Linked DNA regions of Homo sapiens. The protein of the gene in region 2 purifies or fractionates together with the protein of the main gene of each other region. This does not show direct contact. Each region holds a gene or a part of one and is shown on either strand. Other genes may lie near its edges.

The links.
Region 1: the proteins of ARHGAP21 (region 2) and PRR36 purify together in Homo sapiens (affinity purification with mass spectrometry; 2 studies listed by BioGRID and IntAct, with this or other methods). This does not show direct contact.

The regions. Positions count from the first base shown.
Region 1 is NC_000019.10:7,870,913-7,880,573, forward strand, and holds the start of PRR36 (proline-rich protein 36), read right to left. Parts: upstream 3,479-9,661; 5' UTR 3,374-3,478; intron 2,785-3,373; 5' UTR 2,778-2,784; coding exon 2,507-2,777; intron 2,388-2,506; coding exon 2,285-2,387; intron 2,050-2,284; coding exon 1,937-2,049; intron 1,845-1,936; coding exon 1-1,844.
Region 2 is NC_000010.11:24,582,016-24,588,548, forward strand, and holds the end of ARHGAP21 (rho GTPase-activating protein 21), read right to left. Parts: intron 4,092-6,533; coding exon 2,397-4,091; 3' UTR 1,599-2,396; downstream 1-1,598. UniProt on the Homo sapiens protein: Functions as a GTPase-activating protein (GAP) for RHOA and CDC42. Downstream partner of ARF1 which may control Golgi apparatus structure and function. Also required for CTNNA1 recruitment to adherens junctions.

The DNA.
Region 1 (9,661 bases), on a different chromosome or scaffold from region 2:
TGTGGTCAGGGGAGCAGAAGCTGTCTGCAGAGGAGGCGGGGCTAGAGAAGGTAGGTTCTCCAGAGGGGGTGTGGTCAGGGGAGCAGAAGCTGTCTGCAGAGGAGGCGGGGCTAGAGAAGGTAGGTTCTCCAGAGGGGGTGTGGTCAGGGAAGCAGGAGGTGTCTGCAGAGAGGGTGGGGCTAGGGAAGATTGGGTCTCCAGAGGGGGCATGATCAGGGAAGAGAGAGGTGCCTGAGGAGAGTGGGAGGCCAGAGAAGATAGCGCCTGCAGAGGGTGTATGGTCAGGGGTGAGCTTAGGGGTGAGACAGCAGGAGAGAGAGAAGTCTGCAGAGGGGGTGAGGCAGGAAGGGAAAGAGGGGCCTGCAGAGGGGGTGAATCAGGGGGAGTAGAGGCCGGCCGAGAAGGTGAGATCAAAGAAGCTTGGGTTTGCCTAGGGGACATTGTCAGGAAAGAATGTGTGGCCTGCAGAGTGGGTGAGCCCAAAGAAGTTGTGGCCTGCAGAGAGGACAAAGCCAGAGGAGAGGGAGGTGCCTGCAGAGACGGTGAGGTCAGAGAATGTGGGACCTGTATTGGGGGAATGGTCTGGAGAGAGGGCGGGGCCTGCATAGGGGGCGTAGTCATAGAAGGTGGGGCCTGTGGGTGGGGCGGAGCCTGCAGAGGCGGTGAGGCCAAAAGAGAGGGAGAAACTAGAGGAGGATCCTGCAGAGAGACTGTGGTCAAAGGAGAGGGAGAGGCCTGCAGAGGCAATGTGGCCAGAAGAGGAGAGTCCTGCAGAGGAAGAGTGGCCAGAGTGTGGGGCGTGGCCTGGAGAGAGGGCGGAGACGGGGAAGGACTGGCCTGCGGAGGGGGCGTGGTCAGAGCAGAAAGGCCTGGCTGAGGGAGTGCGGCCAGGGGAAAAGCCGAATTCCCCAGAGATGTTGCCGGAGAAACAGGGCCTTGTAGAGGAGACATGGCTGACAGAGGAGGTGTGGCCAAGGGAGAGAGGAGAGTCGGAAGAGAGGGCAACGCTGGATTAGCTTGGGTGGGGGGCATACTCTGCAGAGGGGATGAAACTGATGGAGAGACTGAAGCCACAAAAGCGGCTGTGGCCAGGGAAGAGACGCCTGCTTCTGGAAAGGACATAATCAGCTGTGTGGGTGGAACTTGCGAGGGGGGCGTGGCTGGTGGAGAGGGGAGGGTCTGCAGAGAAGGTGGAGCAGAGGGAGAAGGAGGGGCTAGAGGAAGGGGCGTGGCCAACTGACAGGTAAGGCTCGACGAGTGGGGCGTGGCCGGCAGGGTGGGCGGGGCCTGACTTTGGAGAGCGGCTGGCGGAGGGGGCGTTACCGGTGGAGAGGGAGGGAGCGTGGCTGGCAGGGGAGTGGCTGCATTGTCGGGAGGCGGTACGGGTCTTGCCTTGGTACCCGATGGAGAGGGTGTGGCCAAAGGAGAGGAAGAAAGCGGTCCTAGTGCTGGGGCTGCGTCCTTCCTTGGGGGTGTGACCTGAGGGGGTCGCAGAGCCTGCAGTCCTTTCGGCTTGGGCTGCGAGGGATGCGCAGGAGCCCTGGGTGTTCCGCGGGCTGAGGGCCCAGAACGGGCTGGGGAGGAGAGAGGGGTGGCGCTGGAGCTCAGGGAGCGCGAGGCCGGCCTCTGGAGACCCCCACCGGCGCTGGGCCGCCTCCTGGCAGCCGGGCTTGGCTCGGTGGTACTGTGCTCCGAGGCGCTGCTCACTGATTTCCGGGGGCCCTCTGTCGGGGGCCGTGGCCGGGCACTCGGAGCTGGCCGGGGGAGCCCCACCTCGGTGCCCGCAGCCCGGGACCGACGGGCCATGGCCGGGGACGGGGTTCCTGGGGTAGGCCCGGAAGTGTCTGGAGAAAAAGTAGAAGGCCAAGGGTCACCGATACCTCTGAGGCGGCTCCCCTTGCTGCCCAGGAACCCCACTCTTCTCCAGGTCACGTACCTCTCCGTGCCCCAGCGCTGAGGGCACTCCTTTTGGGAGCCTCTGTAGCTTTTCCTCTGGCCACAGTTTCCTCCGCTGAGATCCGGAGTCCCTTCTGGCCAAGAGGGCCTGGCCTGGAGACAGAAGGGGCCACGCTCAGGCCTAGGTCTTTGTTTGGCTTCCCAAGTCTCTATTTTCCCATCTGTGAAATGGGCATGTGCCCTCTCTGAGGACCAATAATGGCTTTCACCCAATTTGTGCCCAGTGACCTGCAAGTGCTCCCGCGCCCCAACTCGTGTAAAATAAAAGGTTCCAGACTCTGTGACGCTAACCCTGGCTTAGGAGACTGGGGGAGAGGGAGCAGGTTACCTGGTGGTCCCGCTGGCACGCCCTGGGCTAGAAACAGGGCCTGGGCTGGTGTTCTTGGCAGGAGGAGCTCTCTCCCCTCTCCCAGAGGCTGGGGGCCTGGAGGCTGCGGGGAGAAGGCCGAGTCACAGGTGCCCCGGAGAGGTGGCAGTGGAGGTGAGACTGGACAGGTATTGGAAGGGGGAGGGAAGATGGGGGCGGAGCTGAGGAAGGAGGCTGGGGTACCAGGGTTTCGGGAACTTGTCCCAGCACTCCGCGTTGGTCCCGCTCGGGGAGCAGACTCGGGAATAGTGGCCCCGCCGATGCCCCCCGCTCGCTCTGCCAGAGGCTTTCGCCCCACTGCTCCCGCAGCTCCCAGAACTCGGAGGGCTGCGGGAGTTACTGGGGGAGGGGGTCGAGGAGAGCCTGGGGGCCTGGGGGTCAGAAGTCCAGGAGCGCGAGCAGCCGGCGTCCGCGCGGCGGCCCCTGCCTTCGCCTTGTCTCTCTTGTTGTCCATCTTGCACCTGAAGAGACAAACCGGTCCGCATCCCAGGTTCTGGACAGCTACGCCGCCTCCAGAGACCTGGACCCTGCTACCTCACTGCCCTTTCGCAGCATCGCCACCCATGGACACTCAAACCTCGGCCTCGGCTTCCATCCGCTCGGCTCCCACGCACCTACACCCACTCGCCAGCCCCACTGCTCCTCGCTGTCCCCAAGTCCCACCCCCCACCGCTTTTCCCTAAAGCGAAGAGGCCCTGCCCGCCCCAGCCCACCGCCTCCCCCGCCTCGGCTCCAATTCAGGACCGATCTCCACGCCCCTGCCCCTTGCCCCTTCAGGGACTCAGACCGCCAGCCTCGAGAGCGGGGGACTGCCACGGGCTCAGGATGTCGCATCCCTCCAGACCCGGAGCGCACGCCCGGGTCTCCCCGCCAGCCCCCATCGGCCTCCCCTGGCCTCCCCGAGGGATGCCTGCACCTGCCGGGAGGCAGAGCGGCCCCGCTGCCCGCGAACGGGCTCCGGGAGACAAAGAGCCGCGTCCCGGGCCCGACCCCTCCCCCAGCCGGGCCTGGCCCGCGCCCAGCCTCTCCACCTGCTCGCGTCGCGCTCACCTCCGCCTCCGGCCTCCGGCCGCTCCTCACAGAGTCGCCTGGGGTGGGGCCCGGGCCGGAGCGACGCGGTGGCCGCCAGCGGCGAGGAGGCGAGGGGAGGGGGCTGCGGGCTGCGGCGCCGGGGGAGCCGAGCCGGTCCCGCCCCTCGGCCGCGGGCGGGAGAGCCGGGGGCGCGCGCTCGATCCGGACCCGGGAGCGCGGCCGGCGGAAGCGCGCCGAGGGGGATGGGGGAGAAGCGCGCTTTGGAGAGAAGGGTGGCTTCTCTGCGGTCCGGGGGAAGCCTGTTTCCCCAGCTGCGCCTGAGGAACCCAGATAGTCAACGGTTGGGACTGGGGGAGCAAATCCCTGGGGTCCTCCACTGTCCTTCCCAACACATACACCTGCCCCGACCCCCACCACAACCACCTGGCACCAAGGACCGCCTGGACGCGGATAGGCTGGGCCCTGGCAACCAGGAGGCGGGACCACCGCGCCTCTGGCCCACACACCAATCCGGCCGCTCGGTGGCCCTGGCACTATCCAGTCCTTCGCGTCTGCGAAAGCTAGGCCGCCCAGGGTCTCTGGGGGGCAGCCGCCCTCCGCCCCACACCCGAAGGTGTTCCCCAGACGCCAGGAAACCCCTTATCTGGTTGGGGGGTCGAGGGACTGCTAAGAGAATGCTGCCCTGGGAATTTCAGGATGCAAGGTAGACCCCAGATTTTGGGGAAGATAAAGAAAGGAATAGGAGGGAGAGCGACAGGAGACACAGTATATTCTGTGAGAGGTGACCCAGCCGTCTGCAGGGTAGAGCACGCCCACCCTCCACACCCTCCCAGCTAACGGGATGTCAAGTCAGCCCAGACTTCCTGGCAGAGCTGGGCTTCCGGGGGACAAGGTTCTGTCGACCTAGCAGGTGTCAAAACAAGTGCATAAGGCCGGGCGCGGTGGCTCACACCTGTAATCCCACTGCTTTGGGAGGCTGAGGCGGGCGGATCACTTGAGCTCAGGAGTTCGAGACCAGTCTGGCCAACATGGCGAAACCCTGTCTCTACCAAAAAATACAAAAATTAGCCGGGCATGCTGGCGAGCACCTGTAATCCCAGCTACTCGAGAGGCTGAGGCAGGAGAATCGCTTGAACCCGGGAGGCGGAGGTTACAGTGAGCCGAGATTGCGCCACTGCACTTCAGCCTGGGCGACAGAGTGAGACTCTGTCTCAAAAACAAAAACAAACAAAAAAACAAAAACACAAGTTCATGAAGGACGCAGAAGATCCTTTACAAGGGTCCCAGCCCAGCCGGAGCGAGTGGGAGGTGTCCTGTTGCTGACTTCAGCCAGGGCAGGGGCCTCGGTGGAGAGCGGTGCTCCAGGACTGTGGCATGAAGAGGGTGGGAGCCTGAGGGTGGAAATGGCCATTCCTCAGCTCCCTCTCCTTATAAGAAGAGTCTGGGCCGGGCATGGTGGCTCAGGCCTGTAATCCCAGTACTTTGGGAGGCCGAGGTGGGCGGATCACAAAGTCAGGAGATCGAGACCATCCTGGCTAACACGGTGAAACCTTGTCTCTACTAAAAATACAAAAAATTAAACGGGCGTGGTGGTGGGCGCCTGTAGTCCCAGCTACTCGGGAGGCTGAGTATGGCCTGAGTATGGCTGAGAATGGCGTGAACCCAGGAGGCAGAGCTTGCAGTGAGCCGAAATCGTGCCACTGTATTCCAGCCTGGGCGACAGTGCAAGACTCTGTCACACATGCACAAAAAAAGAGTCTGGCCTTGTCACCTCTGTCGGCCAAGTCCCCTCCTCATATGGCCTCCATGAGCTTTCCGCCTGGATGTCGCATCCCTCCAGACTTACAGCCACTTTTTACCCCATTCCAGGAAACCAGCGCCCTGTGCCCCACTGCTAACCCCATCGCAAGCTCATATGCACAGTTCACTCCCTCCTGGAAATCAGGGGGCCTCCATGCACAGGAAACAGATAATGCAACTTGGCATCGGGTGAACTGGGGTTGGGGGGTAGGGACGTTGCGCCCATTTGAGGTTGCAGAAATGGAAGGCAGAGAAAAATGACAGAGCTGAATGCCATGCTTTGACCTCCAGATTGGATCATCCTAGGCCTTATCTTCTCCCTCAGTCTAGCAATGATCACCCGTGTGAACCCCTTGTGGCATGACACCAGCCTGGTTCCCTGTCTACCCACCCACACCCAGTGCCTCCTTCCAAATCACATCCACCAACACAGATCCCTGCCCTCCTATTTATTTATTTTTGAGACAGGATCTCACTCTGTCACCCAGGCTGAAGTGCAGTGGCACGATCATCACAGCTTCACAGCTCACTGCAGCCTCGACCTCCCAGGCTCCAGTGATCCTCCCACCTCAGCCTCCCAAGTAGCTGGGACTATCAGCCGAGGCGGGTGGATAATTTGAAGACAAGAGTTCAAGACCAGCCTAGTCAACAGGGTGAAACTCTGTCTCTACTAAAAATACAAAAAAATTAGCTGGGTGTGGTGCCTATAGTCCCAGCTACTTGGAAGGCTGAGGCGCGAGAATCGCTTGAACCCAGGAGGCGGAAGTTGCAGTGAGCCGAGATCATGCCACTGCACTCCAGCCTGGGTGACAGAGAGACTCCATCTCAAAATAATAAAAAATAAAAAATAAAAATAAAAAACAAAACCCAGATCACTTGAGGTCAGGAGTTCGAGACCAGCCTGGCCAACATGGTGAAACCTCATCTCTACTAAAAATACACAAATTAGCCGGGCATGGTGGCCATGCACCTGTAATCCCAACTACTCGGGAGGCTGAGGTAGGAGAATCGCTTGAACCTGGGAGGCAGAGGGTGCAGTGAGCCGAGATCACGCCATTGCATTCCAGCCTGGGCGACAGAGCAAGACTCCATCTCAAAAAAACAAACAAAAACAAAAACAACAACAAAAAAACAAGTAGCTGGGACTAAAGCCTACCCCACCATATCAGGCTAATTTTTAAATTTTTTGTAGAAACAGAGTCTCGCTGTTACCCAGGCTGGTCTTGAACTCCTGGGCTCAAGTGATTCTCCCACCTCAGCCTCCAAAACTGCTGGGATTACAGGCAGGAGCCACCTCACTCAGCTTCACCTGCCTTCTGACTATGATGCAAGGGTTCCTCCAGGGTACACAAAACCCACCCTGTAATTAATTGGGATCTGGACTCTGCCCTCTTATAAAAACACTCCCAAAACCTCCATCAACAAGAGGGATGAGTAACATGAATCAAAGTGTCCCCTACAATGGAATGAAACTTGGCAACAGAAAGGAACAGACTATGCTACTCTCAAAACAGGGACTAATCTCAAAAGCACACCGAACAAAAGAAGCTACAAAAAACACGCACTGTATGATTCCATTTATAGAACATTCCAGAAAATGCGACTAATCTGTAGTTACAGACAGCACATCAGTGGTTGCTTGGAACAGGTGGGGGAGGGACATTGAATGAACTGCCCAGCGTAGCCACTCTTAGGCATGTGACTCTCAGGTGAGGGCCAGGCGACTGTAGTCCCAGCTACTGGGGAGGCTAAGACAGGAGGATCCCCTTGAGGCCGGGAGTTTGAGGCCAGCTAGGGAAATATAAGGAGACCCCGTCTCTAAAAGAAAAATAAATAAATCACAAATATATATGTATATGTGTGTGTGTATATATATACATATATACATATATATACATATATACATATATACGTATATACGCATATATACATATATACATATATACGTATATACGCATATATACATATATACATATATACGTATATACGCATATATACATATATACATATATACGTATATACGCATATATACATATATACATATATACGTGTATACGCATATATACATATATACATATATACGTGTATACGCATATATACATATATACGTGTATACGCATATATACATATATATACATATATACATATATATATATATTTTTTTTTTGAGACAGAGTCTCACTCTGTCACCCAGGCTGGAGTGCAATGGCGTGATCTTGGCCCTAATTTTTAATTAATTAATTTATTTTTGAGGCGGAGTTTCACTCTTGTTGCCCAGGCTGGAGTGCAATGGTGCGATATCAGCTCACCGCAACCTCTGCCTCCCAGGTTCAAGCGATTCTCCTGCCTCAGCCTCCTGAGTAGCTGGGATTACAGGCATGCGCCACCATGCCCGGCTAATTTTGTAGTTTTAGTAGGGATGGGGTTTCTCCATGTTGGTCAGGATGGTCTCGAACTCCTGACTTCAGGTGATCCACCCACCTCGGCCTCCCAAAGTGCTGGGATTACAGGCGTGAGCCACTGCACCTGGGCATATATATATATATATATATTTTTTTTTTTTTTTGAGGAAGCAATTTCTTTAATTTTATCAGAATCCAGGACACAACAAGAAAAGCACCCAAAAACCACATGGAGACAGAAGATGAGACACAACTCCTCCCCCACCCCTTCCCTGCTCTAGAGTGGGGACAAAGTCAGAGTGAGACAGCTTGGGGGAGACCTGAACCTCAGTCCAGCCCTACAGGCTCCAGGCCTGCAGGGAAGGAGGGTAATGGGGAGGCAGGGCCCAGCCCCCCAGTTTGGGGAAACAGCTGAGGGAAGGCCCCCCTCAAAAGGCTCCACCTCCTCACCAGCACTCCTGCCCAGGGACAGGGAGCCCACAGCAGCAAGGGGACCTCAGGGCCATGGCCACCTTCATGACTGAGAAGTAGCTGAGTGGAGGCAGGAGACACACGATTATCTGGGCAGAATCAGTTAGAGCAGGGGCCTGGAAGGGCCCCATGGGCCAAACCCTGAGGTCACAGGAGGGGCCCCAAAGCGGGGCTAGTGAGTGAGGTCCTGAGTGAGTGGGTCAGCAGCTGGGCCCCTTTCTCTAGCTTCCTGTAGCCCCTCCAATACTGCTGCCAGGGAGGCCTGCCTCCAGGGAAATGGGATAAGAAAGCAGCCTGCCCCTGCTGCAGACAGAGCCAGGTGGCTGAGGCCAGGAAGGAAAGCCCGGCCAGGCCTTGCCACCTGCCCCAGAGGCCTGTGGGAAAAGGACAGGCCAGGAAGGGTGGGGACAGGGGCTCGACTGGCTCAGATCCAAGATGGTGCCACGCTTGCTTGCTGAGTCCCCCATGAGCTGGGGCACCGCACTGGGGCCAGCGACTAGTTAGACAGAAGGCAGCAACTTCTCCAAGAAATTCCTTCACAGCTGCCATCTCCTGAGGACAGCAGCTGTGCATGACACCCGAGTATGTCTTGAACTGGACCCTGGCAGGTGTGACAACAGCCGTCAGGGTCCCAAACCGTACGGGCACCATGGGGTCCAGCTCCCCATGGCACTGGAGGATGGTCAGGCCCTTGCCACTGCCTTTAGCTGCCTGGGGGAAGGCCCGGTGCAGAGGCAGCCAGCAGCTCGATGCTACGATACCAGCCAGCGGGTGGGGGCAGGTGAGGGCCGTGTAGAGGGACAGGGCCCCGCCCTGTGAAAAGCCTCCCAGGACGATTCGATTGGCAGGGATCCCGTTCTTCATTTCATGCTCAATCAAGGCCTTGATGTTCTCTGCTGCCTTCTTGATGCCAGCCTCGTCCTCTGGGGCATCTGGACTCAGCCCCATCAGGTCAAATCAGGAAGGTGTCACCATCTTCATGTTGAGAGTCACAGGGATCCTAGGCACATGGGGACAGATGGAATTGACGTGAGGGAGCCGGACGGTGGAGAGGGCGTCAGCCCAGCTGTGCCCTGTGTCTCCAAGTCCATATAAAAAACTAACCGCGGCTGTTTCCCGCTCAGCTCCAGACACCGCGGCAGCATCAGTGAGAGGGGCGTAGACGTGGTGTTACCACACATACACCACATGGCTCCACGGCGGGAGCCTCCACTCCCTGGGGCTTCCGAGGCCGCTTGGGCGATTCTCCTCTTTCTCCCGCAGACACACACTCTTCCCCCTCGGCCACCCCCACTCCATATATATATATGTATATATAAATATATTATATATATAAATATAAAAAAATATATAAATATATTATATATAAATATAAAATATACATATAAATATATTATCTATAAATATAATATATATAAATATATTATCTATAAATATAAAATATATATAAATATATTATCTATAAATATAAAATATATATAAATATATTTATATATATATAATATATTATATATATATAATATATTATATATATATAAATATATTATATATATAAATATAAAATATATATAAATATATTATATATATAAATATAAAATATATATAAATATATTATATATAAATATAAAATATA
Region 2 (6,533 bases):
TCTCAATTTCAAATGTATGTTTAATGATAATGTAACATTATGCTGGAGTCAACATAACCAGAAAGTTTTCAAATGTTTGGAAATTAAGCAATACATTGCTAAATAACTCACAGGTTAAAGAAAAAAATCAGAATGCAAACTAGAAAGCATTTTGAAATGAATGATAATAAAAATACAGCATATAGCCTTAAAATGAAGATATTAGAAAACAACTAAAAATCAATTTTCCAAGCAATCGTCTCAAGAAATTAAAAAGTCGAGCAAATTATAGCCAAAGAAAGGTTGGGCGTGGTGACTCATGCCGGTAATCCCAGTACTTTGGGAGGCCAAGGCGGGCGGATCGCTTTGAGCCTCGGAGTTTGAGATGAGCCTGGGCAACATGGAGAAAGCCCATCTCTACAAAAAATACAAAAAAAAAAAAGTTAGCTGGGCATGGTGGCATGTGCCTGTCAGTCGCAGCTCTGCAGTGAACTGTGATGATCGTACCACTGTACTCCAGCCTGGGCAATAGACTGATAGTGAGACTCTCTCTCAAAAGAAAAAAAAATATAGAAAAAATGAGGAGCAAGAACAAATAATATAAAACTATTTGAGCCTTGAAAGTAACTTTTAAAACATATAAGTAAAAAGTGTTTTTGACACTTTTAATAATACACTGCAAGAACTCCCCCTCATGTAAACTAAGGGAAGTGTGTGCTTTGTTTTGTTCAAAACTTTAAAAGCAGAGCATGACTCCTAGTAAAATCTCATCGCCAGCAGCAAACTATTCATGGTACCATCTCCATGTGTAGTTACCATTGTTAGTGACTCTATATACTGGAGCAAACATCTGACTATTCCATTATATTATTTTCATGATGTAGTTGTACCTGAGCATTTGCATATTGAAAAATTTATTTTATTATAAATCACTTTCATTTTTCTTTTATAATAGGGGATTATGGTCTATATCATAACATACTCAATGTAAAGTTATATTTAGATATATTATGAATTTCATGATGGTAAAGGGGAAATCTCAAAATACTTTTAAGAAAGTATCATGTTTGACAGTTGACAATCTCTGGATTTGATGACTGTTAAGGTCCTTCTCAGCCTTAACAGTCTGAGATTTTTTTGTAACCATTACTTCCAACAATAGCTTTGTTCTATTTTGAAACTAGTGTGTGGCAGGCACTGTAAGTGGAACAGTATCTCATTTAAATCTAATCACCCTTATAATAGGTAGTGTTACTGTAACTAACTGTTTATATGAGAAAACAAATTCAGAGAAGTTAAATAATGTGTTCAAGTTCACATACCTAGGTAGAGCTGGACTGACTCCAAACTCATGTTCGTTTCACTCACGAAAAGAACATTAACATAACATACATTACTTTACCTAGAAGAGTTAAACACTATCAGTCAACAAGTGAGGTTAGGCTAATGTAAGCATCTGTAAGAAAGAGTCTCTACCCACCACAGCAAGAAAGAGGAGAAGATGGAATGTATAAATATAGTAGGCACCTTTTTAAAGTCAGGACCAATTAATCATGTAAGGTAGTTATAAATGGATGACATCTAAAAATATATCAGAATAAGTTTCAAGCCATGCAAAATTCACCAAAACAATTTTTATTTCCAGTGTTTAATTGGGTATGCACACAGGCATGACACAGGTTTGGATTCATTAAGTCCTCATGCAGAATTATATTCTTCTCGATAAAGAAGCCAGTTCCATCCAGGATCCACTATCTACACACCTATGTTACAACATTATATCAAATCTGGTATCTGAAGAAAAGATACACATTTAATATGTTCATTTAAGTTACGTATTTTACAGAAAGATTAAAAATTCAAGTCACACAAAACTCAAAAACTGTATTAAAAGTTTGAATATAAAACTCAGATCCACCTGGAATGACTAAAGAATGGAAGTTCTGTATCCACCTGTGTTAAAACTGGTAAATGTAATGATATCTGTTACCAATAAAACGCATTCGTTTATTCAATGTAAGTAAGTTATCTAATTTTAACAATATGGCACCCTAAAAACCAACTGTATTTTTATGATGAGGCACTTTTGTTAGTGATGAAACCAAAAGAACAAATTTGCTGCACACTGATGCCAGCGATTTTCTTCAGTGATTTTGGGTATATGCTATGTAGTAAGTTGCAACAAATACCTTGCTCATTTGTATACAACTATCCGATATATTTTTAAATATATATATATATATATATGTTCTTCTGGCTGTAGTAATGCACTGTAAAGCTATTTCACAGTGCAAAATGATGAAACCAGCCCAAATGAAGGCTGCATAATAACAATTCTGATACAAGAAAATATTGACAGAGTTACTGGAACGTGTAACAGTAGTTTTTTTACTTGCTAGAGTGGACATACCCCCAGTTTAAAGACAGGGATGAAACTCTGCTTTACTGCCTGGGGTTTCAGACAGTTTATGAGGTTGGGCATTCGCTGCAGAACTAGCATTTTTGCTCACGTTCTGGAAGCTTTCTCCGTTTATTTGGTCAGGTGACTGTGGTGGTATGGAAAGAAGGGGCCTGTTTGTTGAAGCCAAGGTGCTGGAAGAACTGCCTGTGTTGCAATGAAGAGACAAAGGTGTGTCGGTCGTGGCTATTTCTCGTGTGCTTGGGTTCTCTGTCTGGGGATCTCCGATTTCTCCTCTGCTAAGGTCAGAGGTACTGGTGCGTAGGCGTTCCCTGGCCAGCCAGTCTGAGATGGAAAGGTCCTGGGCTGAGCATTTTGGTTTTAACCGGTTTACAGCTGAAAGTTCAGATTCTCTCTCCCCGCTCTGCTCATGCACTTTCCAAAAATTCAAAACGCTGATTTCGGTAGCATCTCTGTGCCCTCCTAGTGTATGTCTGCGCCGGATGCTTTTCCTTTTAGCAGTCTCGGCATTCACTTTGTGATTCCCTACTCCAAACATGTCATCCGCAGGGGCTCTGGGTCTCAGTTTTAACCGATCTGCTATTTTCGTTTTCCATGTGGGTTCCTGTTTTTCGGATTCGCCTCTGGTGGGTGTCAGTAAACTCCCAGTTGACTTTCCTTTTTTCATAACATCAAACACTTTAGTTAACGAAGGTGCTTCTTTCTCATTCTTGGCATCTCCTAGACTTCCACTATCTGACTTGAATCTAGCTGATTTTTTCCTGGAAAGAGTATCACATTCGATGAGTTTATGGGAACTGAAGAGCTGTCTCCGGCTATCTAAACTTGATGTTAAACTTCCCTCGGTGCAACTTAATTCACTTCCTTCAGAATTTCTCCGGCTGCTCTTAGTCACTTCTTGCAGTTTTCCTCGGAAAAGCCTCTCTGAAGTCAAGGCTGTGGGGAACACGGGAAACTCGCTCTCGCTGTCGGTTTCCACAGGCCGCCCTTCACTGATGAGTTCGCTTCTCTCGTCATCTGCCTCGTCCCCCTTGCTCTCTGCCACGGATTGCACCTCAGGGCTCAGTCGACTGGAGTCCAGGCTAGTCAAGTATGTAGCAGACGATGTGGTGGAATAATCTGAGGTGATGGTGCTGACGTTGGCCAAAAACTCGCTATGTTTCGTTTCTGGACTGGTTGATTTCTTCATGGAAAACCTTGCCAGGGAGGCCTGGGAAGACGTGCTGAGCAAAGTGCCAGAGTCAGAGCCTGTCTCTTCAAGGTGGGAGGACTTCTGTGCCAGAAGTGACCTGGGGCTCTCTTTCAGGATGGCAAAGCGACAGCTGAGAGTTGGTGACTTGTTGTGTTTTGAGTTGTGTGGTGGTGAGGGTTCTTCAGAAGGCGTGCTCTCTTTTCCTAGTGATATCTTTTCATCTTTTGTCGTGCTGGGGTCTTTCCTAGTGCTGTTTTCTTTGGCAATGATGATCTTCTGTTTTCTGCCCAGTGTCTCACTTTCTTTTTTGGACTCCTCTTTAGTATCATTGTGACACTGTTCCACATTTTCTTTCTTAAAAAATACATTGTCCAGTTCATCTTCTGAGCTGCTAGGCTGTGCTTTTTCTTTCGGCTTCTTCCTCTTGCGACTAGCAGCTGCAAAGATGGAGGACACAAGCAGTTCCCTGCTATACTGATCCTTTCCAGATCCCCAAGAACCCTGGGAAGCAAGAGAGAAGAAAGACTCTGAGCATAAGAATGCAGCTGAGTTCATTTTCTGACAAGCTTGTCTCCCAAATATTTCTTATCAAATTATATCTACTAAAGCTCTGGAAGCATTAACAGTGCAATTAGCTTTTTTTTTAATACCTCTTTTTACCTTGAACCAAAGTCAAATTTTTATTTAATGAGTCCAATTTCTTGCCTCGTGGTATTTAACTGCCAAGCCACAGCTCATACACATCTGCCTTTCAGGAAAATAGTCTGTGCTTAGTGCTGATTCCTATCAAAATCCCCCAAACACCTGACCTTCCCTCCTTCCACAGTGCCCAGGCATTCTTCACTTCCTTCATTTGGAATAGAGGCATGGGATAGGTAAAACAATATTGTGACACGGTCAAACATCATATTCTGATATAGGTTATTAAACATCACATTCTGATATAGGTTATTAAATGTTTATGACTGACTTTGATTTTTCTAATTACAGGTACCACATGATATAGATACTGTATCAGATAAGCTCATTGAGATAAGGGAACTCTGGTCTTCCATTAGTTCATTCAGGCAGGATCTTCAAGGATCTGCCTTAAGTAAATCAGGTTGGTAATGTCTTCATTTATCTCAAGGTAACAATGGAATTAGAATATTCAAAAAACAGGCCAGGTGTGGTGGCTCATGCCTGTAATCCCAGCACTTTGGGAGGCTGAGGCGGGCAGATTGCTCGAGCCCAGAAGTTCGAGATCAGCCTAGGGAACATGGTGAAGGCCTGTCTCTACAAAAAATTAAGTGGGCATGGTGGCACGCACCTGTGGTCCTGGCTACTTGGGAGGCCGAGGTCAGAGGATCACCTGAGCCTGGGGAAGTCAAGGCTGCAGTGAGCATGAGGGTACCATTGCACTCCAGCCTGGGTGACAGAGTGAGAACCCACCCCAGGAAGGTAGAAAGGAAAGATCAATTAACATAAGTACAATTAAATCCTTACCACAGAAACACTGTAGTGCAGTGTTATTGGGAAAGTTATTTGCTATGTATAATAGGTTCTTTTAAAAAAAATTTTTTAAGATGGAGTTTCACCATGTTGCCCAGGCTGGTCTAGAAGCCTTAGTCTCAAGCTATCCTCCCACCTCAGCCTCCCAAAGTGCCAGGATTTACAGGCATGAGCCACTGCATCTAGATATAATAGGTTCTTGATTGCAACTATTAGTTTCTTCCTAAATATCTGCTGGTTTACCACACACTTTTTAAGACAAGCAGGTAGGCAGGAGGTATGCTGAGTAATAGAAACAGACAGTATATTTCTCTATTGCCTGCAAATCTTAGACAAGTTAAAACTGCTCTATTTAAAGTCTTAAAGTAAAAATTTAGGCTGTTCTATCAAAGAATTTAGGCTGTTCTATCAAAAATTCGCTAAGATGAAATCACAGATGAACAGAACTTTGTTTTTACAAGTTATAAAGACTTTCATAATTATCCAGCACATTTCTAATGGTTATTTACATTTCCCCACATTGTGCTGAAGACTGTAGGGGATAATGGTTGTGACTGGGCTCTCAATTGGGAGACCTTGATGTCCATCCTCTCTAGCTTGCTGGGTACGAGCAAGGGATTCACTTTTAAACATCTCAGTTCCGTGGCGAGAAGCAATTAGATTATACTGTCTTTCAGATTTCCTTAAGGTTCTCTTTACAATTCTATGATCATATATGTGTTGAGGCAAATTACTCTACTTTTCTACAGAGACTGTTTGTTAGAAGTAGTTAATCATGTCATTGGGATATCCACTATATTACAGGCATAGCATAACACCACTATGGATAAGATGAAAAGGCTACTGTAATAACAGGTTAAGAAAAATGCATCTAGAGAAGGGAAAAGCAGGGATTTCAAACAGGTCTCTCTGGTTTAAAATCTCATCTGCTGGCAACAGAGTTAAGGAAACTGTTCTAGATTAAAGAAGTCTAAAGAGATTTGACAAAGAAATGCAAGGAATGATCCTTGACTGCATTCTGTATAAGGAAGTAAAGAATATTACTGGGACAATCTGTATAAAAACTGCACATTAGATAATAATGTGTTGTACTTACCTCAGTTTCCTGAGTATGAAAATTACACTGTAATTATATAGGAGAATGCCCCAGTTCTCTGGTGATACATGCTGAAGTATTTAGGAGTAGTGTTATCTCTACAAGTAACTATCAAATGATTCAGAACAAAAGTGTGAATTTACAATTGATGAATCTAGGGTAAAGGATTTGGGTGCTATTATTTTAGCAGCTTTAGGGTAAAGGATTTGGGTGCTATTATTTTAGCAGCTTTTCTGTAGGTTTAACATTTTTCAAGATAAAAAGCTGGGCAAAAAGATAAACATCACAAGTAATAGAGACATGATAAAGCATTTTTGTAAGAATTATAATTTAATCATATGGAGTCCTGTTATGAT